2 separate regions of the Homo sapiens genome follow, and region 2 is linked to region 1. Evidence: fine-mapped expression QTL. Tissue or cell type: whole blood. Region 1 holds a variant in brackets; the other region holds the start of a gene. All regions are shown on one strand. Distances are from middle to middle.

Region 1 (5,709 bases):
CTGTCAGGAGTTCAAGACCAGCCTGGCCAACATGGTGAAACCCTGTCTCTACTAAAAATACAAAAATTAGCCAGTCTTGATGGCGGGTGCTTGTAATCCCAGCTACTCAGGAGGCTGAGGCGGGAGAATCGTTTGAATCCGGGAGGTGGAGGTTGCAGTGAGCCGAGATCATGCCACTGCACTCTAGCCTGGGCGACTGAGCAAAACCGGTCTCAAAAAAACACAAAAAAACAAAACGTCAGGCACGGTGGCTCACTCCTGTAATATCCCAGCACTTTGGGAGGCCGAGGCGGGCAGATCACAAGGTCAGGAGTCCAAGACCAGCCTGGTCAACATGGTGAAACCCTGTCTCTACTAAAAATACAAAAATTAGCCAGGCTTGATGGTATGTACCTGTAACCCCAGCTACTCAGGAGGCTGAGGCAGGAGAATCACTTGAATCCAGGAGGTGGAGGTTGCGTGAGCCGAGATCGTGCCATTGCACTCCAGCCTGGGCGACTGAGCAAAACCCGACTCAAAAAAAAAAAAAAACGTCAGGCATGGTGACTCACTCCTGTAATATCCTAGCACTTTAGGAGGCCGAGGCGGCGGATCACAAGGTCAGGGGTTCAAGACCAACCTGGCCAACATGGTGAAACTCCGTCTCTAATAAAAATACAAAAATTAGCCGGGCATGGTGGCAGGCACCTGTAATCCCAGCTACTTGGGAGGCTGAAGCAGGAGAATGGCTTGAGCCCGGGAGGCGGAGGTTGCAGTCAGGAGAGATCGTGCCACTACACTCCAGCCTGGGTGACTGAGCAGGACTCTGTCTCAAAAAAACAAAAATTAAAAAAAGGCCGAGCGCAGTGGCTCATGCCTGTAATCCCAGCACTTTGGGAGGCCGAGGCGGGTGGATCACGAGGTCAGGAGATCAAGACCATCCTGGCCAACATGGTGAAACCCCGTCTCTACTAAAAATACAAAAATTAGCTGGGCATGGCAGCGGGTACCTGTAATCCCAGCTACTTGGGAGGCTGAGGCAAACGAATCACTTGAACCCAGGTAGTGGAGGCTGCAGTGAGCCGAGATCACACCATTGCACTCCAGCCTGGGTGACAGAGTGAGACTCTGTCTCAAAAAAAAAAAAAAAAAAAAAAAAAAGAGACAAAGCAAATAGAAGAGGTGATCAGATAAAGAGAGACAAATGAGAAAAGAAGGAGGAGAAGGGAGAGAAAAACAAAAGAAAAGCTTGGGCGGGAGTGGTGGTGCACGCCTGTAATCCCAGCTGCTCGGGAGGCTGAGGCATGAGAATCATTTGAACCTGGGAGGTGGAGGTTGCAGTGTGCTGAGATCACGCCACTGCACTCCAGCCTGGACGACAGAGCAAGACTCCATCTCAAAACAAAACAAAACAAACAAACAAACAAAAAACAACAACAAAAAAGAAATGCTTACATATAAAGCCAGAAATTAAATAGGCAGTAAATGTGAAACTGCTCAACCTCACAAGTAACCAAGAAAGGCAAATAAACAGGAGGTTTCTTATGCCTTCACATCAGCAGAGCTTTACAAGTGAGAAAGCCTGAGGGTGAGAAAGGCCCACTCAGCCACTTCTGAAACACGCATCAGAGCCTTACACAGGGATTCGGTCTCCACCCAGTAACCCTCTCCTGGAATTCCTGCCTCACATAATTTCCTAAGGCAATAATCCTAGATTTGGATGGGATATGCACACTTACATGCTCATAATAGCATTGAGGGTAACACCAAAACCAAACAAGCAAACCGAAGTGGAGATGACCTGTGTCAGTCCAGGTCCTCTAGAAGCAGGGACCAAGATGGGATTCTTTGCCATGCAAGACATTCATCAAGGCCAGGCGTGGTGGCTTATGCCTGTAATCCCAACACTTTGGGAGGTGGAAGTGGGAGAATCACCTGAGGTCAGGAGTTCAACACCAGGCTGGCCAACATGGTGAAACCCCGTCTCTACTAAAAATATAAAAATTAGCCGGGCGTGGTGGCGGGCACCTGTAATCCCAGCTACTCGGGAGGCTGAGGCAGGAGAATCGCTTGAACCTGGGAGGCAGAGGTTGCAGTGAGCAGAGATGGCGCCACTGCACTCCAGCCTGGGTGACAGAGTGAGACTCTGTCTTGAAAAAATACTAAATAAATAAAGAGATTCATCAGAGCCAGGCCTGGGAGGGAAAAGAGGAGGGAGCAGGGGATTCAGGGAGCTGTCCCACCACAGGCAGGTCTGACTCTTGCTGGAGGACAGGATGAAGGAAGGAAAGGAGGTTGGGGGCAGCGTCTCAGCCTACGGTGCCATCCTGGGAGACTTCAGCACGAATGTGGGAAAATCCTAAGAGAAGCCTGGGTCTCCCAGGAACGAGCCAGCCTCAGCATCCCTGCCATGCTGTCTCTAGATGGGAGAAGCCTGCGGGAAGCGGGGTCTCCATGTGCTGGGTGATGGATTTCCGGGCACAGCAGCTGGGGGCCCTGGGTCAATTATACTTCCCAGAGTGGGAAATCTGAGGGGCACACTTTCACGGCTGCTATACAACCCCGATGACTGAAAATAAGGCAATGAACAAACAGTGGCCGCTCAAAGTCATTTTATCAAAGAATGTTTACTGGCAGGGTAAAATGCTTCAAGTATGACGTTAATTTATAAAAGCAGGTTATAAAATATATTTATGACGATCCCCCATTGAGTTAAAAAATATGTCTGTTGGGGGAACACGGATGGAGTTGGAGGCCATCATCCTCAGCAAACTAACGCAAGAACAGAAAACGAAATACCACACGTTCTCACTTATAAGTGGGAGCTAGATGATGAGAAC[C/A]GATGACCACAAAGAAGGAAACAACAGACACTGGGGTTTACTGGAGGGGGAGGGTGGAGGCGGGCAGGAGGGTGGGGGGGAAGAGGGAGAGGAACAGGCAGAGAAGATAACTGTTGGGTACTAGGCTTAATACCTGAGTGATGAAATAATCTGTATAAATAAACCCCCATGACACAAGTTTACTTGTTCATTTTCTTTTTTTGAGACAGAGTTTCGCTCTTGTCACCCAGGCTGGAGTGCAGTGGCGCCATCTCAGCTCACCGCAACCTCTGCCTCCCGGGTTCAAGTGATTCTCCTGCCTCAGCCTCCCAAGTAGCTGGGATTACATGTGCTGCCACGCCCGGCTAATTTTATATTTTTAGTAGAGACAGGGTTTCTCCATGTTGGTCAGGCTGGTCTTGAACTCCCGACCTCAGGTGATCCACCCACCTTGGCCTCCCAAAGTGCTGAGGTTACAGGCATGAGCCACCACGCCTGGCAGTTCATTTTCATACTGCTATAAAGACATACCTGGGGCCAGGCACAGTGGCTCACACCTGTAATCCCAGCACTTTGGGAGGCCGAGGCAGGTGGATCACAAGGTCAGGAGATTGAGACCATCTTGGCTAACATGGTGAAGCCCCATCTCTACTAAAAATACAAAAAATTAGCTGGGCGTGGTGGCGGGCGCCTGTAGTCCCAGCTACTCGGGAGGCTGAGGCAGGAGAATGGCGTGAACCCGGGAGGCGGAGCTTGCAGTGAGCTGAGATCGTGCCACTGCAGTCCAGACTGGGAGAGACAGCGAGACTCCATCTCCAAAAAAAAAAAAAAAAAAAAGGCATATCCGAGACTTGCTATTTTATAAAGAAAAGAGGTTTAATTGACTCACAGTTTTGCAGGGCTGGGGAGGCCTCAGAAAATTTACAACCATGACAGAAGCGGAAGAGACACTTCTTACATGGCCGCAGGCGAGAGAGAGTGGTGAGCAAAGGAAGAAGCGCCCCCTTATAAAACCATCAGAGAGAACTCACTCATTATCACGAGAACAGCATGGGGAAAACTGCCCCCGTGATCCAATCACCTCCACCTGGCTTCTCGCTAGACACGTGGGGATTACAATTCCAGATGAGATTTGGGTGGGGACATAAAGCCTAACCATACCATGTTGCTATGTAACAAACCTTCACATGTACCCCTGAACCTAAAATATAAGTTTAAAATAAAGTGTCTGTGTGTGTGTGTGTGTCCACCTATCTTACATATAGACAGAAAGCAAGACTGGCAAAAAAAAAAAAAAATCTTTGGGCAGGGGGAGAATTTTTCTTTTTTTGTTTTTTCTTTTTGATCTCAGTGGTGCGATCTCAGCCCACTGCAATCTCCGCCTCCTGGGCTCAAGCGATTCTCCTGCTTCAGCCTCCTGAGTAGCGGGGATTACAGGTGCCCACGACCACACCAGGCTAATTTTTGTATTTTTAGTAGCGATGGGGTTTCACCTTGTTGGCCAGGCTGGTCTCAAACTCCTGATCTCAGGTGATCCACCCACCTCGGTCTCCCAAAGTGCTGGGATTACAGGCATGAGCAACCATGCCTGGCCAAGAATTTTCTTTATATTTTAATGTATTTTCCAAATTTTCTAAAGTTAGTATGTATTATTTTAGAAATCAGTCAAATAAACATGATTTCAAGTTTTAAAAAAGAAATAGCACTTGGAGAGAAGGTGAGAAATGGAGAGGTGTGAAGGCTTTTCCAAGTGTTGGTAATAAGGTAAGAAAAGACTTTAGCACCCCCAGGTGTCTTACTGTAGCAGTGGGTTTGTGACATTGGTGTTTCTTCTCAACCATCTCTGACACCAGGCTCAGCTCCACTGTCCCCAGCTCTTTATCTGCTCTTCGGATCTCCCCGCTGAATGGACAAAGCAGTCCCCTGGCGTGACTCCTTGTAGAACCAATTTTGCAGTAAAACCAATGCAATATTATTTCTCTCAGCCCTTTTACGCACTACCCAAAATGACAGTACTTTATAGTGAGAAGGAATACTTAGAATGACAATTCTGAGGCTCTTCAAGATCCCAACGTTATTAATTTCCTATTCAATGGCCCTGGAAACATTTTCCCCCAACAGCATTAGTGCTAAGAGCAGCTATTCTTGGATTCAGTTTCTGGTCCTTTACTTACTATATGTGACATAACCTTAGACAAACAACTTCATCTCTAAAAGTTACAATTAAACAATTATACAGTTTAGCAGTGTGTGTGTGTGTGTATTCACAGAGTTGTGCACCTATCGTCACTATATAATTCCAGAACATTCTTATCTCCCCATTAGTAGTCACTACCCACTTGCTTTCAGTCTCCCCAGTGTCTGGAAACCACTAATCTACTTTCTGTCTCGATGGATTTGCCTGTTCCACAATTTTTTTTTTTTTTTTTTGAGACAGTTTTGCTCTGTCGCCCAGGGGGGTGTGCAATGGCGGGATCTTAGCTCACTGCAACCTCTGCCTCCCAGGTTCAAGCGACTCTTCTGCCTCAGCCTCCCGAGTAGCTAGGATTACAGGGGCCCACCTCCACGCCTGGCTAATTTTTCTATTTTTAGTAGAGACAGGGTCTCAGCATGTTGGCCAGCTGGTCTCAAATGCCTGACCTCAGGTGATCTGCCCATCTTAGCCTCCCGAAGTGCTAGGATTACAAGTGTGAGCCACCGTGCCCAGCCTACTCCACAATTTCCCATGAAGAGAATCATATAGTATTTGTCCTCTTATGTCTGACTTCTTCCCTTTTTCAAGGTTCATCCATGTTGCAGCGTGTGTCAGCACGTCATTCCTTCTGACGGCTGAGTAACAGTCCATTGTGTGGGTAGATCACATTTTGTTTATTCTTTCATCACTTCAAGTACACTTGGGTCGTCTCTATAT
Region 2 (5,709 bases), 21 kb before region 1:
GGGCACTGAAGTCAGTCAAGGTGTCCAGGAATCACCCAGAGCAGGGTCCGACCAGAAGCTGCAGTGACCCATCCGTGACTCCTCAGTTCCTGTGACCTCAAAGACATCAGGGCCCTTCCCAGCGGGGCCTCGCTTCTCCAGGGCCACCAACTGTGCCAGTCTGTCCAGGACACGAAACCTTCTGCACTGAAACTGAAAGTCCCTGGCAAACTGCTACCAGTCAGTCACCCTATTTGTCCCCTAGTGCCGTGTCACTTCCCAGTGGCTCTGGAAAAAGAAAGCCAAGGGTTGGGAAGGCTGAGACCAAGTTTCCAGGCAATTTTTGGGCTGGCTTGCTGGCTTTATTTATTTATTGAGACAGAGTCTCACTCTTGTTTGCTTGCTTGCTTAATTGATTGAGACAGGGTCTCATTCTGTCACCCAGGCTGGAGTGCAGCGGTGCGATCATGATCACTGCAGCCTCTACCTCCCCACCTCAAGTGATTCTCCTGCCTAAGCCTCTGAGTAGCTGGGGCTACAGGCGTGCACCACCATACCTGGCTAAATTTAAAGATGTTACAGAGGTGGGATCCCACTATGTTGCCCAGGCTGGGCCTCTAACACCTAGACTCACACGATCCTCCTGCCTCAGCCTCCCAAAGTGCTGAGATTACAAGCACCAGAGAGCCACCATGCCGAGACTGGGCTCTGCTACTGATGTAAACAAAGAATGCTTTTTGGTAACAAATTAAAATAGAACTACACCAACCTTCCCCTACCCTGACCCCCACGGTTTAAACGAAGTAAAACTAACACAGACCCTTCAAAAAACCTTTACTAGGACCCAGGAGGGTCCACTGCAGAACTCAGGGGTGGAAGCTGTGCCATGATGGCTTCCAGGGGTAAAGGAAGAAGAAACGCAAGGCTGACCGAGTAGCCGGCCCTGCCTGGCACACAAGCCAGGGAGATGAAGCAGATGGAGGGCAGGCTGGCCTTCGTTTCAGCCCTGAAAGCAGGATCCCTGACGCGCTGTGGGGAAGGGTGCCCTCCCCACAACCTCCCTTAGGGGAGCGGCCACCCTAACATCACCTACCACGTGCCCAGCACTGACCTTCTTGTCTATTACCCGCAGGGACCGGAAGTAGGAGTAGAAGAAGGTGTCTGTGATCGTCAGCGGGTTCCGGATGGCCAATTCTCTCAGGAAACTGTCTTCTGCATTCGAGTTGTTCAGCAGAGCCCAGGGGGAGTGGCGGCTGCGGACCAGGCCCAGCAGGGCCTCCACCGTCTCCTCTCCGGGGCTCACCACATCCTCCTCTCTGGGGACAAGCTCCCTCCAAGTTCGCCAAGTTTGAGGAAGAAAGCGCGACTTATTCTGCAGTGGCAGAGGAGGGATTTTCTGTAGGTGTGACACAGCCCCCTTAAGGACACCAAACTCTCAAAACAGAACAGATCATAAAACTGGACGATTAGGGATAGAGTTTAGAAATCTAGAGAGTAGGCCAGGTGCGGTGGCTCATGCCTGTAATCCCAGCACTTTGGGAGGCTGAGGCAGGCGGATCATGAGGTCAAGAGATCGAGGCCATCCTGGCTAACACGGTGAAACCCCGTCTCGACTAAAAATACAAAAAATTAGCCGGGCGTGGTGGCACGCAACTGTAGTCTCAGCTACTCGGGAGGCTAAGGCAGGAGAATCGTTTGAACCCGGGAGGCGGAGGTTGCAGTGAGCCGAGATCACGCCACTGCACTCCAGGCTGGGTGACAGAGCGAGACTCCGTCTCAAAAAAAAAAAAAAAAATCTAGACAGTGAATAATCAATAATTTTGATGGATTATTAGCCATGGATATAACTACAGATGAGGTGAGATACAAAATAATTAAAAGGTGCCATTCCTTTTAAAAAGGCAGGTGGATCACTTGAGGTCAGGAGTTTGAGACCAGCCTGGGCAACATGGTGAAATCCTGTCTCTACTAAAAATACAATAATTAGCCGGGCATGGTGGCAGGTGCCTGTAATCCCTGCTACTTGGGAGGCGGAGGTTGCAGTAAGTCGACATCGCGTCACTATGCTCCAGCCTGGGCAGTAAGCCTTCCTGGGCCACACCTGGGCGCCCCTCGTGGTTGAAGCCACGGGAGGGAAGGGTCTAGGACTCTGGAGACAGGGAGGCAGGATGGGGGGTAACCCCTTCTCCTGGACTCAAGGTCGCAGGCTTCAGGCTGAGCCACCTCTCACACTGCCTCAGGCTCTTATTAAATGCTCGGAGGCTGGGAAAAGTTGTGGAACTCTTTGCCCAAAACAAAAGCTTTTCACCCCAAAAGGAGCCTGCCCACTAGAAATCTGGGGTGTTGACGTCTTCAAGTCAGGGAGAGGCCCCAGCCCAGGTCAGCTGATGTGCTCAGGACGGGCCCCGCTCTCCTCCCCGCGCAGTGCCCGCGACTCGGGCCCCACCGTCACCCTCAAGCCCCACCCGCCCCCATGTCGGCGGCCCCCAGAATGCGCAGATCCCAGGCCCCAGGGACCAGCCCGCTCCGCTCGCCCGGGCCCGTGCCTCCCCGCAGCCGGTCCAGGCCCCCAGAGTTCCGGCCCCGGCGCCCGCACCCAGCTGCCGGCACCGCACGGGAACTCGCGCAGACACAGCTTCCGCAAGTGCTCGCGCACGGCCGCGCTCACGGTCCCGGTCCCGGGCCGCTGAGTCCCAGGCCCGGCCTCAGACTCGGACTCGGACTCGGACTCGTACGACGCCTCCATGGCCCGGGCCGCGTTGCCCGGCAACCGCTAGGACGCGTGCGCGGGGGCAGGGGCCTCTCCAGGCGCTCTCACCTGCCCCGAGGGAAAAGTCCCCCATCCGGATCAGACAGCCTGGCCCCAACCACCTGCGTTTTCTCTTCTGCCCTCATCTATAAAAATGGGATAACAGCTGGTGGTTCTAAGTGCGGCAGCTCCCGCAGGCAGTAAGCGCCATAGCTGACCTGTTTCTTAGCTCCTGTCAAGCACTCCCCACGGAAAGTCATCCTATACCCATCTGACAGATGGAGAAAGGAGAAGAGGGCCCAAGGTCAAACATCTCGACTCCAACCAGCCAGTGGGTTCCAGGGTGGTCTCTCTAACCCTGGAGTCAGGGATTTTATCACTGTCCACCTGTATAACTGTTTAATCACCCAGACCTCATTTTTTAAATTTTTTATTTATTTTATTTTATTGAGACAGAGTCTCGCTCTGTCGCCCAGGCTGGAGTCCAGTGGCGAGATCTCAGCTCACCGCAATCTCCGTGTCCCGGGTTCAAGCGATTCTCCTGCCTCAGCCTCCCGAGTAGCTGGGATTACAGGCGCGCATGACCACTTCCGGCTTTTTTTTTTTTTTTTTTTTTTTTGAGACCGAGTTTCACTCTTGTTGTCCAGGCTGGAGTGCAATGGCGCGATCTCGGCTCACTGCAACCTCCGCCTCCCAGATTCAACCGATTCTCCTGCCTCAGCCTCCCGAGTAGCTGGGATTACAACCGCCTGCCACAACGCCCCGCTAATGTGTATTTTTAGTAGAGACGGGGTTTCACCATGTTGGCCAGGCTGGTCTCGAACTCCTGACCTCAGGTGATCCACCCACCTCGGTCTCCCCAAGTGCTGGGATTACATACGTGAGCCACCGCACCCAGCCTAATTTTTTGTATTTTAGTAGAGATGGAGTTTCACCATGTTGCCCAGGTTGGTCTCAAACTCCTGGGCTCAGGCAATCCACTGGCCTCAGCCTCCCAAAGTGTTGGGATTACAGGCGTGAGCCACCACGCCCAGCCATGAAGCTTCTTTTATAAGGACATTGATCCCATTCCTGAGGAGCCCCCAAACTTAATCACTTCCCAAAGGGCCCCACGTTTTAATACTATCACACTGGGCATCAGGTTCTGACAAATGAATTTTGGAGGAACACATTAACATCTCTCATTCTTTTTGACTATACGATATCGGGACAACTTTACTGTTATTAGAAAAATTAGGCTGGGCGCGATGGCTCACCCCTGTAAACCCAGCACTTTGGGAGGCTGAGGTGGGTGGATCACCTGAGGTCAGGAGTTCGAGACCAGCCTGATCAACATGGTGAAACCCCGTCTCTACTAAAAATACAAAAATTAGCCAGGCGTGGTGACACATGCCTATAGTCCCAGCTACTTCGGAGGCTGAGGCAGGAGAATTGCTTGAACCCAGGAGGCGGAGGTTGCAGTGAGCCGAGATCACATCACTGCACTCCAGCCTGGGCAACAGAGTGAGACTGTCTCAAAAAAAAAAAAAAATTTATCCAAAACTGGGAGTTAAGGCAAAAAGATGACCATATGTCCTTTCTTTTCCTTTTTTTTTTTTTGAGACGGAGTCTCCCTCTGCCGTCCAGGCTGGAGTGCAGTGGTGCAATCTCGGCTCACTGCAAGCTCCGCCTGCCAGGTTCACGCCATTCTCCTGCCTCAGCCTCCTGAGTAGCTGGGACTACAGGCGCCCGCCACCAAGCCCGGCTAATTTTTTGTATTTTTAGTAGAGACGGGGTTTCACCGTGTTAGTCAGGATGGTCTCGATCTCCTGACCTCGTCATCCGCCCACCTCAGCCTCTCAAAGTGCTGGGATTACATGCATGAGCCACCGGGCCCAGCCAACCATATGTCCTTTCAAAGAAGAAAATATCCTTTTTTTTTTTTGAGGCAGGGTCTCCCTTTGTTATCCAGGCTACTGTGCAGTAGCGTGATCACAGGTCACTGAAGCCTGGACCTCCTGAACTGAAGCGGTCCTCCCACCTCAGCCTCCTGAGTGGCTGGGACTACAGGCATGCATCACCATGCCTGGCTAATTTTTTTGTATTTTTAGTACAGATGGGGTTTCGCCATGTTGCCCAGGCTGGTCTCGAATTCCTGACCTCAAGTGATCCACCCACCTCAGCCTCCCAAAGTGCTGAGATCACAGGCGTGAGCCACCATGCCTGGCTCTCAAAGAATAAAATAAATATCTATGAGTCCATAGTGATATAAATAAATCAAGGAGATGAATCACAGATATGGCTCCTGCAATTTTGATGGAGCAACAGATGGACAATGTGCAGTGAAGGAAGAGAAGACTGAGAGGGGAAATCAAGCATCCTGTTTGGAACAAGTTAAGGTCCAGATGCCAATGGGCGTCTACTGTGTCAAATCAGCCATTGGTTAGGAGTAAGAGCTCAGGAATGAGGTCAGGTCTGGGCAGACCACAGAGCCCAAGATACACAGAAGAGGCCCAGCCAGGAAGCCCTTCCACCCTTCATCCCAAGTCCCCCTGCAGCCAACACTGTCTCTTTTCTCTTCCTTCTCATCCAAGCTTCTTGACACAGTGGTCTATACTCACTTTTTCTTTTTTTCTTTTCTTTTGAGACGGAGTTTTGCTCTGTTGCCCAGGCTGGAGTGCAGTGGCGCAATCTTGGCTCACTGCAACCTCCGCCTCCTGGGTTCAAGCAATTCTCCTGCCTCAGCCTTCTGAGTAGCTGGGATTGCAGGCTCCCGCCACCATGCCCAGCTAGTTTTTGTATTTTTAGTAGAGACAGGGTTTCTCCATGCTGGTCAGGCTGGTCTCGAACTCCTGACCTCAAGTGATCCACCTGCCTTGGCCTCCCAAAGTGCTGGGATTACAGGTGTGAGCCACTCGCCCCTGGCCTATGCTCACTTTTTCCTCACTTCCCAAACCACCACAATATAACTGCCACACCAAAAATTTATTCAAACTCTCCCA

What was found. PIP is the estimated chance that this variant, and not a neighbour inherited with it, causes the effect.
Region 2: it holds the start of LRRC43, and the variant in region 1 is fine-mapped to the expression of LRRC43 in whole blood (TOPMed, PIP 0.98).

What each region holds. Positions count from the first base shown.
Region 1 is chr12:122,159,006-122,164,714 of GRCh38, reverse strand. No RefSeq gene overlaps it. Among named protein-coding and RNA genes, the nearest start is that of IL31, 12 kb to the left of the region's middle. The variant C/A (reference allele first, on the strand shown) is at 2,820.
Region 2 is chr12:122,180,161-122,185,869 of GRCh38, reverse strand. It overlaps LRRC43 (leucine rich repeat containing 43), which reads right to left and starts at 2,747. Exons shown (of 12, transcript NM_001098519.2): 1 at 2,576-2,747; 2 at 1,091-1,351. The coding sequence starts at 2,725. RefSeq lists an enhancer at 957-1,026 and a silencer at 2,620-2,719.